Linked DNA regions of Homo sapiens. The protein of the gene in region 3 interacts with the protein of the main gene of each other region in a biochemical or structural test. Each region holds a gene or a part of one and is shown on either strand. Other genes may lie near its edges. The genes, in order: EPB41L2, RAB3C and FKBP2.

Region 1 (3,648 bases), on a different chromosome or scaffold from region 3:
GGTTTATATTTTATATAGCAGAATGCTAAATATTTTTGAAGGTTTTGTTTTGTTTCTGTTTCTACTCTGTCTCTACTAAAAATACAAAAATTAGCCGGGCATGGTGGCGCACGCCTGTAATCCCAGCTGAAGACATGGGCCTTTTTCTTTCTTTTTTGAACTGAAGTAGCCTGTTTAAAAGCTATGTGTGGGCTTTTTATTGAAAAGTGTGAATTGCTACTAGTTTTATAAGGCAAATAAACAGTTTATAGGGATCAATACCACTGAGTCACATTTTGCATTTCTAAAATCTGTGCTGTTTACTTGGAGAAAACAAAAGAAATGTGCCTACCTCCTCCATCCCACCTTTATTTAGAAACATTTCCAGTGGGCTTGTTTTTTTCAGATTCAGAATTACTGTACCTAACCACTGGGTACCCTTACAGATTTCAAAGCCTGAAGTAAATGTTTATGCTGGCTTTCGTAGTCAGCAAATAATAGCCAAACCCTAATTCACTGCTCTTTTATAGAATCTTGGAATCTCAGGGCTGAACCGTTAGGAGTCAGCAGATCCACTCTTAGCCCTAGTCTCTTCCTCTCAACATGCAAACAGTTCTAATGTCTTTGGAATGTCTGAGCAAATAGAAGATTTGTATGCGATTCTGTCACCAATTCTAGACAGAACATCCTTTGGGATGCCATGTTTTGGCATAAACCAGCAACTTGATATTATGAGATTTGTATCATTTCTCTGCGTGGGCAGTGCCCTAGACTAAAATCTAAAATGGAGTCAATGCCTGATGTCATTAACTATAGGGAAATGGCCTCCAAGTTAGCTATTAGAGTTGTTTAGGAATTATAGCTGGGCGCGATGGCTCACGCCTGTAATCCCACCTCTTTGGGAGGCTGAGGCGGGTGGATCATGAGGTCAGGAGATCGAGACCATCCTGGCTAACACGGTGAAACCCCGTCTCTACTAAAAATACAGAAAATTAGCCAGGCGTGGTGGCAGGCATCTGTAGTCCCAGCTACTCGGGAGGCTGAGGCAGGAGAATGGCGTGAACCCGGGAGGCAGAGCTTGCTGTGAGCGGAGATTGCGCCACTGCACGCCAGCCTGGGTGACAGAGCCAGACTCCATCTCAAAAAAAAAAAAAAAAAAGTTATAGGTAAGCCAAGAAGGAAAGAAATAAATAATCTCAGTTATCATCTAGAAATGATTTATAGTTTTTGTTGCTGTTGTTGTTTTTATTTTGTTTTTGAGACACAGTTTCACTCTGTCGTTCAGGCTGGAGTGCAGTGACGTGATCTTGGCTCACTGCAACCTCCGTCTTCCCAGTTCAAGTAATTCTCGTGCTTCAGCCTTCCAAGTAGCTGGAATTACAGGCGTGTGCCACCATGCCCGGCTAATTTTTGTATTTTTAGTAGAGACAGGGTTTCACCATGTTGACCAGGCTGTTCTTGAACTCCTGACCTCAAGTGATCCACCCGACTTGGCCTCCCAAAGTGTTGGGATTACAGGTGTGAGCCACCGCACCCAGCCGGTTTATAGTTATAGCTAATAGATTTTGGTAGCTTTTTCTATAAAGTATGTGTATGTGTGTGTATTTCATATGAGAGAGGGAATATTATAGGTATTTGTGATGTGAAGCACCTACTCATTGTATTTAATAAATATTTGATGAATTAATTCATTGAACCTTTAATATATTAGAGGTGAAGAATCTTTAGTGAAGATTCTTTGATAGAGTTGACATAGAAATGGGTAATGTTTCATGTAGAAATATCATGTCGGTAATGTTTATTTGCTTTTCTAACCACTGATATTGTTTCTCCTGGTTTTGTGGTTGGCTTGGGATCTGTGTTGTAAGTTTCTTAGAGGCATGTTTTTCATGTCTAGGAGAGTAGATAGGCTATATATTTCCATGGTGTTGGGATAGTATTAATTTTAATTAGAATTTCAGAGGCTTTCTGAATTTTCTTATTTTAAAGTGATGTCTCTTACTTCTTGGCATTGGAATAGATTTCATGTGATCTATGAGTGCATTCATACTGCTTCTGGATATTTTTTCTTCAAAGATTGCAATTGAGCTAATTTCATATTCTCAGTTATCTTTAAAATGGAAACATGTTTTCACTTCACAGATACCTCTCTGAATTTTGCATATTTTCACTCTACCTTATTAGAGCCATAAAGTCAAAAAGTACATAGATTGTCTCCCAAATAATCTGGAATAAATTGAAGGATAAGAACAATCTTTCCTGAGATCTGACCTGTATCTTAAATAAGGTTTTGCTTTAGATAGCCAAGTTGAAATTTTGCATAGATAACTAAGTTCGGCATCATGGGGATCATTTTAGTTCTTTCCAGGTTAGGAGGCATGGAAAGGCTCCCAAAGTGGTTTTGTCACTGTTCATCTATCGGACCTTATTGCCTAGGTCAGGTAGGGTAGTTCATGCATTTAAATCAAATCTTTCTGAAGAGACCAGTTTCCTCTTGCTTTGCTCTTAGGGCCTCACCATCAACCTTCATGAAAGAATTTTCAAATACTTAAAAACTTATGTTACCCTTCAGTTGCCTTTTTCCAGGATAATTGTGGTTTTAAAAAGCTTGTCATATAGTTCTGATTACCAACTCTGAAGTCACCTTTTCCAAGCCCTTGTATTTACGTTTCCAGACCTGCTGATGAGCTTCAGGGCTGGGCCATTATAACAACAGTGCTGAATTCACTCATATTTTTCAGAGTTTCCTACATTCTACTGATATATGTACATATCCCAGTAGCTTGAAGACATAAAATTAAAATGTGATTTACACTCTGCCATAATTCTTTGTTTCTTTCTCTTTTTGTCCAGAAGCTACTTGTTTTTCACCCTAGATTCATTTACCTTGAGGGAGATTATTTGGTTCAGACTCCTGACCTGGGGTGGAGAGTGGGGTTCTTGGGCCTCATGGGTGCATAAACTGCCTGAGACTGTAAGTGAGGTATTGTGTTCCCATGTGCATGCACTCCTGTGTGTGTGCAGCATCTCTGTGTGTGTGTGCACAAGTGGATGAGAGAGACAGGTTAAGGGAGAAAGAGAACTTTAGGAGTGGTTTTTGAAAGGGTTTTGGGAAACAGAAAAGATTGAGAACTGATGTTTCAGTTCTTATTTTCGAGATTAGAAGATGGAAGTTTTAAGAGTATTTTGTTTTTCTCTTTTTTTTTAATTTTTTCACCCTATTGCACTTTTCATCATTTATTCTCCCCTATCTCCCATTGTACTTCTTTCCATTCAATTGAATTCATTTAGTTGACCCCCATTTACCTAACTGTCAAGGTTAAACTGAATTCTGATATAATCCTGGCCACTCATATTCTTACCTGTGAACTTAATGAATGTGCATTTATTTCCTTACAAATTTCTTTGATGGAATATTGATTAGAAGGAATCAGTAACATGTCCACTCTATTTGATGCTGGTTAGACTGCCACATATGCCATTGTGACCTTGGGCAAATTATTTCTCAAAGCCTCGTTTGCTGTAGTAAGGGGTTAAAAATCATACCTACCTCAGAGTTACATGAGGATTAAATGAACTAATGCTTATAAAATGCTTCATAGAGTGCCTGGCATCTGTAAAAATTGTTAGGTTAAGAAGAGACCTAGTGGGTTGGTTACTGGTGAATAT
Region 2 (3,648 bases), on a different chromosome or scaffold from region 3:
TGTACAAGTTAGTAGTTCATGTTCCAGCTTTGCCATTTACTAGCTGAGCAACGAAATACTTGAGCAAATTACGGAGCCATTTTCTGCCTCTATTTCATCAGTAAATTGGAGAAAATAATGGTACCTACTAATGGATAAAATGAGTTAAAATGTATAAAATGCTCTGAATAGTACCTATTATATAGTAATCATTCAACAAATGTTAGTTTATTATTGCTATTGTTGTTATCATAGCATTTTCTAGTTTGCTTGGCACTTATGCCTATCTTTTCTCATTTTAGCCTCATGATAACCCTGTAAGTTAAGTAAGGCAAATGTCATAAATAAGGAAATTAAGGATTTTTTTTAAAGTGACTTGTTCATGGTCCCAAAGCTAGAAGTGTTGCTAAGTGGGGCTAGATCCCACATCTTTTGACTGATAATCTATCTCTCACCATATCATGATGTCTCCTTCTCAGCATGCTGAATAAATAGGTGCCATTATTTCTGGCACATTGTCTCTTTAATAGCCACATATTCTTAGGGTTCCAGTTAAGGTTGAGAAGCTGAGATCATGTTGGCTTCTGAGATCAAAGATAATTTTACTGACCTCAAATTGTATACCAATATGATGATAGGGTGTTGAGATGCCCAGGGTAAAGGAGTCACATTTGATAAAACCTTGTGTGGATTATCATCTTTTCATAATGGCTAAATCTTTTATGATACCGTTCAAGCTCAGTGACTTCCCAAATCATACTAATAAGTACAAGAAGTGTTAGCAAAAGAGATGAAAAAATTGAACTTGTAAATGAGACCTTTGTACCAAATTCTTGGATGTTTTTTCTTCAAAGGCTCATTCAGGGATCTTGAATTCTTCAGTGGGTTCTTGGTATCTTATGACATAAAGCATCCTCCCATTAGGTCTGGGAAAATCACCACAAGCATGCCAATAGTTCTGATATCTTAGCAACAAGGATCTTGCTTAGATCCATGCTTGCCTTTCCCCAAATCTGGATTGAATTACTGGAAGTTGAACGATCTAGCTCTAAAGACTGCACAAACATTATAAAAGAGAGCTCTGTTAACACCAGATGGCCTTATCTGCAGATTTTTAAAATGTAGACTATAAGAGAGCCATATAAGCATTGTCCAGAGAGACAAAAGGAAAGAAAAATACAAGCCACAATGGTTTGAAATATCCAGCTCTATTTTATAGAACCTTGACTCTACTGATGTTCTTCAACCCCAATCCTGCAGTTATTCATGTGGATTTTAACGAGAGTAGCTAGTGAAATTCAAGCTCAGATGTAGTCATTGAACCAAATAGTATAACGACTAAGTTGGAGATTTTAACTCACGACACTTGCCTTTTGTTGTCTAGCTTCAATACTATTTAAGAAAATAAGTATTTCTAGGTTATTTGAGGGATTTTGACATGGATGCAAAATATTAATCTGTTCTTTTTCCTTTGGCCCCAGGAGCTGGGATGAAATCACATGATTTCATCATTTTGAATCCATGCGGCTCCTCTGAGATAGGGCCAGATGTAACCAGAAGGATTTATAGGGTGTAAAATTCAGAATGGATTAGAAAAGCCTTTCTATGTTCAGCCCAACACATCCTAAATCAACGTCCCCTGAATGGACCAGAGCAATCTCTGGCTGGCCTAGTGGGGAGGTTGTCATGGCAACTGACTGGCAAGCTCAGCCAGTGGAATGTGAATGCAAACAATAGAGTGATAAGACTGTGTACAGAGCAGCATACTAAGGCTGCTTCTGCCCAGGTACAGTGGCACATAGGTGAAAGTGTGAAACTGTTGCTGCATTTTGTAACTTCTTAACAATCTCTGGCAGCTCATTTGAAATTTACCAAGTGCCCTTTCCCAGATGTTGGTAAAAACATTCCTGCTGATAGATAACAGAAGCTATGGAAAAATCAGCACCCAGCTGATAGGTGCAGAGGTATACAAAGCCCTGGAGGGCTGTTGGAATAACACTACTCAAAAATTTTCTGAAGGAGGTTGAAGCAGGTTTAAGGTAAATCTTATGACTCTTCAGTGCCATCTTGTGTCCTTTTAGATACTGACAATTTACTAGAAGCCCACTCTCAGACCGATCATTAGGCAGCAGCAGGGCAGACATGGAAAAGTTAGAGCTGGATTATATTGGAGCTTGGTATTCCCTTTTACAGCAGAATATGCACACCAAGCCTTCTGAGCTTTAAATTGATTTAAAAAATTGAAATTAAAAATTTTGGTAGAATCTGGAAATAAAAACAGAATAAGATGCCAAATAATGCCATGAAAAGATTGCAAGAGTCTACATGGTGCGCTAGGGGTTGAGGGAAGGGATGGAAAATCTAGATTTAGTGTTGAAGATTCTTACAGATAGATTTGGTATTGAGGATTCTTACTGTTGTCATTACTAACTCTTGCAATAGAATATTTTTAATCTATTCAGTCATGCTGATAATGCAAATGAATCAACAGAGAAAAATAAAATGTGAACATCACCAATTCCACTTTATAACTCTTTTGTTCATGGTTAATGGAGTAAGAGATGGTAGCATTTGCTTAAATGGTACCTCATGCCCACCTCTAATCTCTTACCTACCCCAAACCTACCACCCACTGATGTCTCACCATCACCTCATCACTATTGAAAGCCATAATCAAGTCCCATTTAATTTCAGAAATGCAAAATAACCAAGATGTGTTTCTGTGTGTTTCTTCCAGGGTTTGAGTTTTTTGAAACAAGTGCCAAGGACAACATTAATGTCAAGCAGACATTTGAGCGCCTTGTGGATATCATCTGCGACAAAATGTCAGAGAGTTTGGAGACTGATCCTGCCATCACTGCTGCAAAGCAGAACACGAGACTCAAGGAAACTCCTCCTCCACCGCAGCCCAACTGTGCCTGCTAGTGTCCCCGTGCACACAGGCAGCTCCAGGGGGCTCTGGTTGCCAACAAACAGCATTTGTAAATGGTCTATTAGCCTTCATTTATACTGCCTAACAATTATTTGAAGGAATAAATTGATGTCAATGGCTCGTACGCATTCAATTCTTGGGAGCTTTCCTGTTTAATATGTGGCAAATATGTGATCTTAAATTTATAAGGACTATCCATCTATAAACATCTGGTACCTGCATGTGACTTGTTATTTATTTGTCTGCTAGGCTCTTTTTGTTTCAAATTTGTTCTCAGACTACTTCTGGGACATCAGACTATAATCTCACTACAACTGGCTTTTGTCCCATTGATTCAAATTATGCTATTCACTTGTAGGAATGATGACCAAGGAATTGCTTGTGTGTGTGTGTGTGTGTGTGTGTGTGCACGCATGCCCGCATGCGTGCAGAGGAAGAAGTCACAAGACTTCATTTGCTTTACTCTTAGTTGAAAATCAAATGGAAGTTTTTCTCATGATTAGGGACGCTGTCACGAGTCTGGTCAGTTTACTGTTGGGAACTGTGTCTTTATTTCACTGTTATTAATAACTGAGATCATTGGCCTATAAAGAAATTGAAATGTTGTTTTTAAGGTCCTTGCAATTTTCCTAAGTCATTAATATTACCTGACTGGGGCTATTTAACAATAATCTTCGTTTACACATTTAAATAAGCAAGTATCTACCCAGGACTGCTTTTTCCACTGATCCTTCCCA
Region 3 (4,265 bases):
TTGCATCCTGCAGCTTCCTTCATCATCAGTTGCTGCCTGAGATTCTCCTGACTTGTCTATCCTAGCCCAAGCCCAGCCCCTACCCTTCTCCCTGCAGCCTCCAGTGCCCAGGGCTGAGTGGTTTGGGGTGGATGAAAGGCCAACCTTGGGCACCACTGCTTTGCCTGCTGAAGCAGGACATTCAGGGGCAGAGTTAACTCAATTGGGCAGCCACTGGGAGGGGCAGCCACCCTAATGGAGGCTTTCTCTGAGGTGTTGGGTCAGAGCATGTGGGTATGATCTTAGTGGGCCTAAGGCAGGAGTGGGTTGAACCAGGAGACAATTCCTGACAGCGATTACTACTTTCAAATCATTTTCTCAGTCATGATGTCACTGGACATGCCATAGGTCAATTAGCATGAGGCAGAAAGGGGTTAGGGCCCCAGAGCTACCGCCTCCAGAGCCCAGTTAGCCCCACCAGTCACGCACAATGCTTCACATGCACCTCCTCACTTTCTCCTCGCTCGATTCTGAGGTCAGCATCATGATTGTCTTCCTTTTACAATTGAGGAAATAGGCTCAGAAAGGCTAACTGGCCGGGGGGATTTGACCTCAACTCAGCTGTCTCCCTAACCTTCAACCTAGGTTTAGCTGCCTCTCAACTGCAGGTTCATTACTTCAGTTGACAGATGTTTGGTGGCTGCTGGGGCGCCTGAAAATAAGTCTGGTGGGGGAACAGGCCCAGCCAGATCATTCCAGTCATGAGTCACAGCCCAGGTGCACAGGTAGAGGTAAGCCTGGCTCCTGGGAGAGAGATGTGGGCAGGAGCATTGGCTGGAAGCCAGGGCTTGTCATTGGACATCATCTCGGTCCTGCAGGGGCCCTGTGGGGTGGGTGTCATCAAGCCCGTGTTACACGCCTGTATTGGATGACAAATTCTACCAAGCACACAGCCGACCGGGAGTTCAAACGTGAGTGTCACTGTGAAGCCCAGGCTCCACAGCGACTGAGGGCCGTGGGCCATGATGAGGCCCGGGAAAACAGGAGTGCTGTGGGAGAGGCTGGGGGCGACTTGAAATGGCGCCTCAAGACCCCCTCCGGGAACCCACGCCCGCCTGACCTTACTATCACCTCGGCCGGAAGTGTCTCCGGCCTTTTCGGAAGTCACTTTCACCTAACCTTACAGACTACCGCTCCGCCGGAAGTGACGCAGGGCAGCGGCGTCGCGGGGGCGGGGCTCGGGAAAGACCCGTGCCAGCGGGCGTGTGGCCGCGGGTTTCGCACGGTCCAATAAGGGAGGGCGGCGTGGCCCGGCCTGGTAGCGACGAGGACGCGCCTGCGCAGAGGCGGCAGCACCACCGGGGTTGACTCCGGGGGCGCGGCGAGGAGGTGAGCGGGGGCCACAGCCCGGGCTGGGGGGAGCCGGGGTGCAAGAGGGCAGGCTGGATCAGGCCGGGCAGAAGCGGACCGGGCTCCGAGTGTCAACGAGAGCTAGGTGACGAGGAAATTGGGGGTGGGGGCCGGAGCTGTCCGGAGATGCCGCAGGGGGAGGGTTCTCACGCCGCACGGGGCGGAGTCCTGGGACTCGGGGCGGGACGTGGAACCGGGACGGGTGGGACCTCCGAGCTGGTGCCAGTGGAAGGCGGAGCCCGGCGGCGGGGGGCGGAGCTAGGAGGGTCGGGGGACGGAGCCTGGCTCTTGAAGGAGGAGCTGGAGGAGGTGAAAGGCGGAGCCTCGGGGTCGGAAGCAGAGGGGGACGGAGCGGAGGCGCTGGGGGCGGGGCTTCAGCCGGTGAGTGGCGTGGCTACGGCTCCGGAAAAGGGGTCTAGTTCTGTCGAAGGCGGGGCTGCAGGCCCGGGGGCGGTACCGCGTCCTCCGAAGGGCGGTGCCAAGGAGCCAAGTGAGGAGCCTGGCCCGAGTAATGGCCCCGGGCGTCCTCGCGGGGGTGGTCTCCGTGGTGGCCGGGCTTGGGGACGCCGTAGGCCGAGAACTCCACCGGGAGAGGTGGTGTGGGTGGAGCGGGCTCGGCGGCCAGCAGACACAGGGCCAGTCTGGGTGCCCCGGAGACCCCCAAGGGCTCAGAGTTGGGGCGGCGCCCCGGGCGGAAGCACAGGGCCAGGCTGGGGGGTATCTCCCGAGGACCCGGGCTCCTCGGAGCCACCCAGTGGGGATGTGTGGGTGCCTCGGGGCCGGCCCCCTGCAGCGGCCGCAGAGGTGTTGGTGTGCTGGACCGGGGGCAGCTGGGTGTGGCGTGAGTGGGGCCGCCCAGTCGGGGCAACTGCAGTGCAGCCAGATAGGGTCTGGACTTTGCGTAAAGGGACAGGCGGGAACTGAAGAGCGGAGGTGGGGACTGGGAGGGAGGGAAGGTATGGGGGTGAGCAAAGGGGCGGGTCCCTGGCTGCTGTGGCCTCCCCTGACCCCCTCCCCCCGCTGCTGGGGTCCTCGGCCAAGCCCCCTTCTCACTGGACTGGTAAGTGTGGCCCCGGAGCCCGGGGGAGAGGGCGGTGACCCGGGACAAAGGGGATCCCCCGGGGCAAGGAAGATACAGTGGCGGTGGAACCCTCCTGTTACCTACCCGTGTTCCATACTCTCCCTGCCCTCCCCCACGTTCAGTCGGTCGGTCGGGGTCTGTGCCCACAGAGACATGAGGCTGAGCTGGTTCCGGGTCCTGACAGTACTGTCCATCTGCCTGAGCGCCGTGGCCACGGCCACGGGGGCCGAGGGCAAAAGGAAGCTGCAGATCGGGGTCAAGAAGCGGGTGGACCACTGTCCCATCAAATCGCGCAAAGGGGATGTCCTGCACATGCACTACACGGTGAGTGGGTTGGGCGGGCCTTTTGGGAGTGGGTGGGGCTTCCGAGGACCAGAGAGTGCTTGGGAGTCTGGTTCTCCATAAGCCAGGTAGGTGACCTTGGGCAAGTCCCCTCTCGCCTCTAAGCCAGTTTCCATGGTTCTGCCTTGCCCTTGCCTACTGCCCAGGTGGGCACCAGCAGGCAGTGACAGTGTACTGTGAGCTGCCCAAGGCTCTGTCCTCTTAAAGAACTATGACCAGCTGGGCGCAGTGGCTCACCCCTGTAATCCCAGCACTTTGGGAGGCCGAGGCGGGTGGATCACCTGAGGTCAGGAATTTGAGACCAGTTTGGCCTCATGATGAAACTTTCTCTGCTAAAAATACAAAATTAGCCAGGCGTGGTGGCGGGCGCCTATAATCCCAGCTACTTGGGAGGCTGAGGTGGAAGAATTGCTTGAACCCGGGAGGCAGAGGCTGCAGGGAGGCGAGATCACGCCGCTGCACTCCAGCCATGGCAACAGAGACTCCATCTCAAAAAACAAAAAGGACTGACCACCAGGGCTGTGGGTGGGCGTGGGGGGGCAGCTTGATGGGGAAAGCAGCTGAGGGAGGGGGTGTCAGGGGTGGTCCCCTCTTCCTCACTGGCCTTCTCATGGTTCCACAGGGGAAGCTGGAAGATGGGACAGAGTTTGACAGCAGCCTGCCCCAGAACCAGCCCTTTGTCTTCTCCCTTGGCACAGGCCAGGTCATCAAGGGCTGGGACCAGGGGCTGCTGGGGTGAGTCATGGGGGAATGGGCTTGGGAGTGGGGGCGTGCATGGCCACCGCCCAGGAGGTAAGCTGTGGGAGGCAAGCCCCAGGGATACAAGACAAGGGCCCTGGGTGCTGCCATGGGCTGAGCATGTGTCTTCCTGCAGGATGTGTGAGGGGGAAAAGCGCAAGCTGGTGATCCCATCCGAGCTAGGTAAGAGGCCCCTCCTGAGGGTGCAGAGCGAGTTTGGGGTGTGTGACTGGGAAGGGTGAAAGCTGCTTCAGCTTTTCATTGGTCTTCACCGTATCCATTCATTACAATACATGCCTCCTCCAAGTTTGGCTGTGTCTAGCAGTGAGTACAGGGCAAGATCATTGAAGCACTCAGCTGTAGTGGCCCCACTCTGCCCTTGCCAGGCCTTTGGCACCCCCTTCCCATCTCCATTACCCTTCTCCATTTCTGGCCTTCTTGCTGAGAGGGGCGGAACACTCTCCCTTTGCCCACACTGGAAGGGAGCTTGGCCATCACTGACTGTTTCTTTGTGCATCTTCAACAGGGTATGGAGAGCGGGGAGCTCCCCCAAAGATTCCAGGTAGTAAACCTTTTGATACCTCCCATCACCTGCAGCCAGCCCACCTCCCTGTGGCCCTGGTTGGCATTTTGACTCCCCTTCTCCCCTACAGGTGGTGCAACCCTGGTGTTCGAGGTGGAGCTGCTCAAAATAGAGCGACGAACTGAGCTGTAA

The links.
Region 1: the proteins of FKBP2 (region 3) and EPB41L2 form a complex in vitro, tested with the Homo sapiens proteins (one study listed by BioGRID).
Region 2: the proteins of FKBP2 (region 3) and RAB3C form a complex in vitro, tested with the Homo sapiens proteins (one study listed by BioGRID).

Annotation. Positions count from the first base shown.
Region 1 is NC_000006.12:131,056,605-131,060,252, reverse strand, and holds part of EPB41L2 (band 4.1-like protein 2), read left to right. Parts: intron 1-3,648. UniProt on the Homo sapiens protein: Required for dynein-dynactin complex and NUMA1 recruitment at the mitotic cell cortex during anaphase.
Region 2 is NC_000005.10:58,848,448-58,852,095, forward strand, and holds part of RAB3C (ras-related protein Rab-3C), read left to right. Parts: intron 1-2,716; coding exon 2,717-2,904; 3' UTR 2,905-3,648.
Region 3 is NC_000011.10:64,239,765-64,244,029, forward strand, and holds the start of FKBP2 (peptidyl-prolyl cis-trans isomerase FKBP2 isoform 1 precursor), read left to right. Parts: upstream 1-1,330; 5' UTR 1,331-1,368; exon of another isoform or gene 1,369-1,515; coding exon of another isoform or gene 1,516-2,313; exon of another isoform or gene 2,314-2,449; intron 2,450-2,592; exon of another isoform or gene 2,593-2,619; coding exon of another isoform or gene 2,620-2,623; coding exon 2,624-2,794; intron 2,795-3,434; coding exon 3,435-3,547; intron 3,548-3,686; coding exon 3,687-3,733; intron 3,734-4,076; coding exon 4,077-4,112; intron 4,113-4,203; coding exon 4,204-4,265. Other genes in the region: uncharacterized protein LOC114841035, read left to right, coding at 1,516-2,313. UniProt on the Homo sapiens protein: PPIases accelerate the folding of proteins. It catalyzes the cis-trans isomerization of proline imidic peptide bonds in oligopeptides.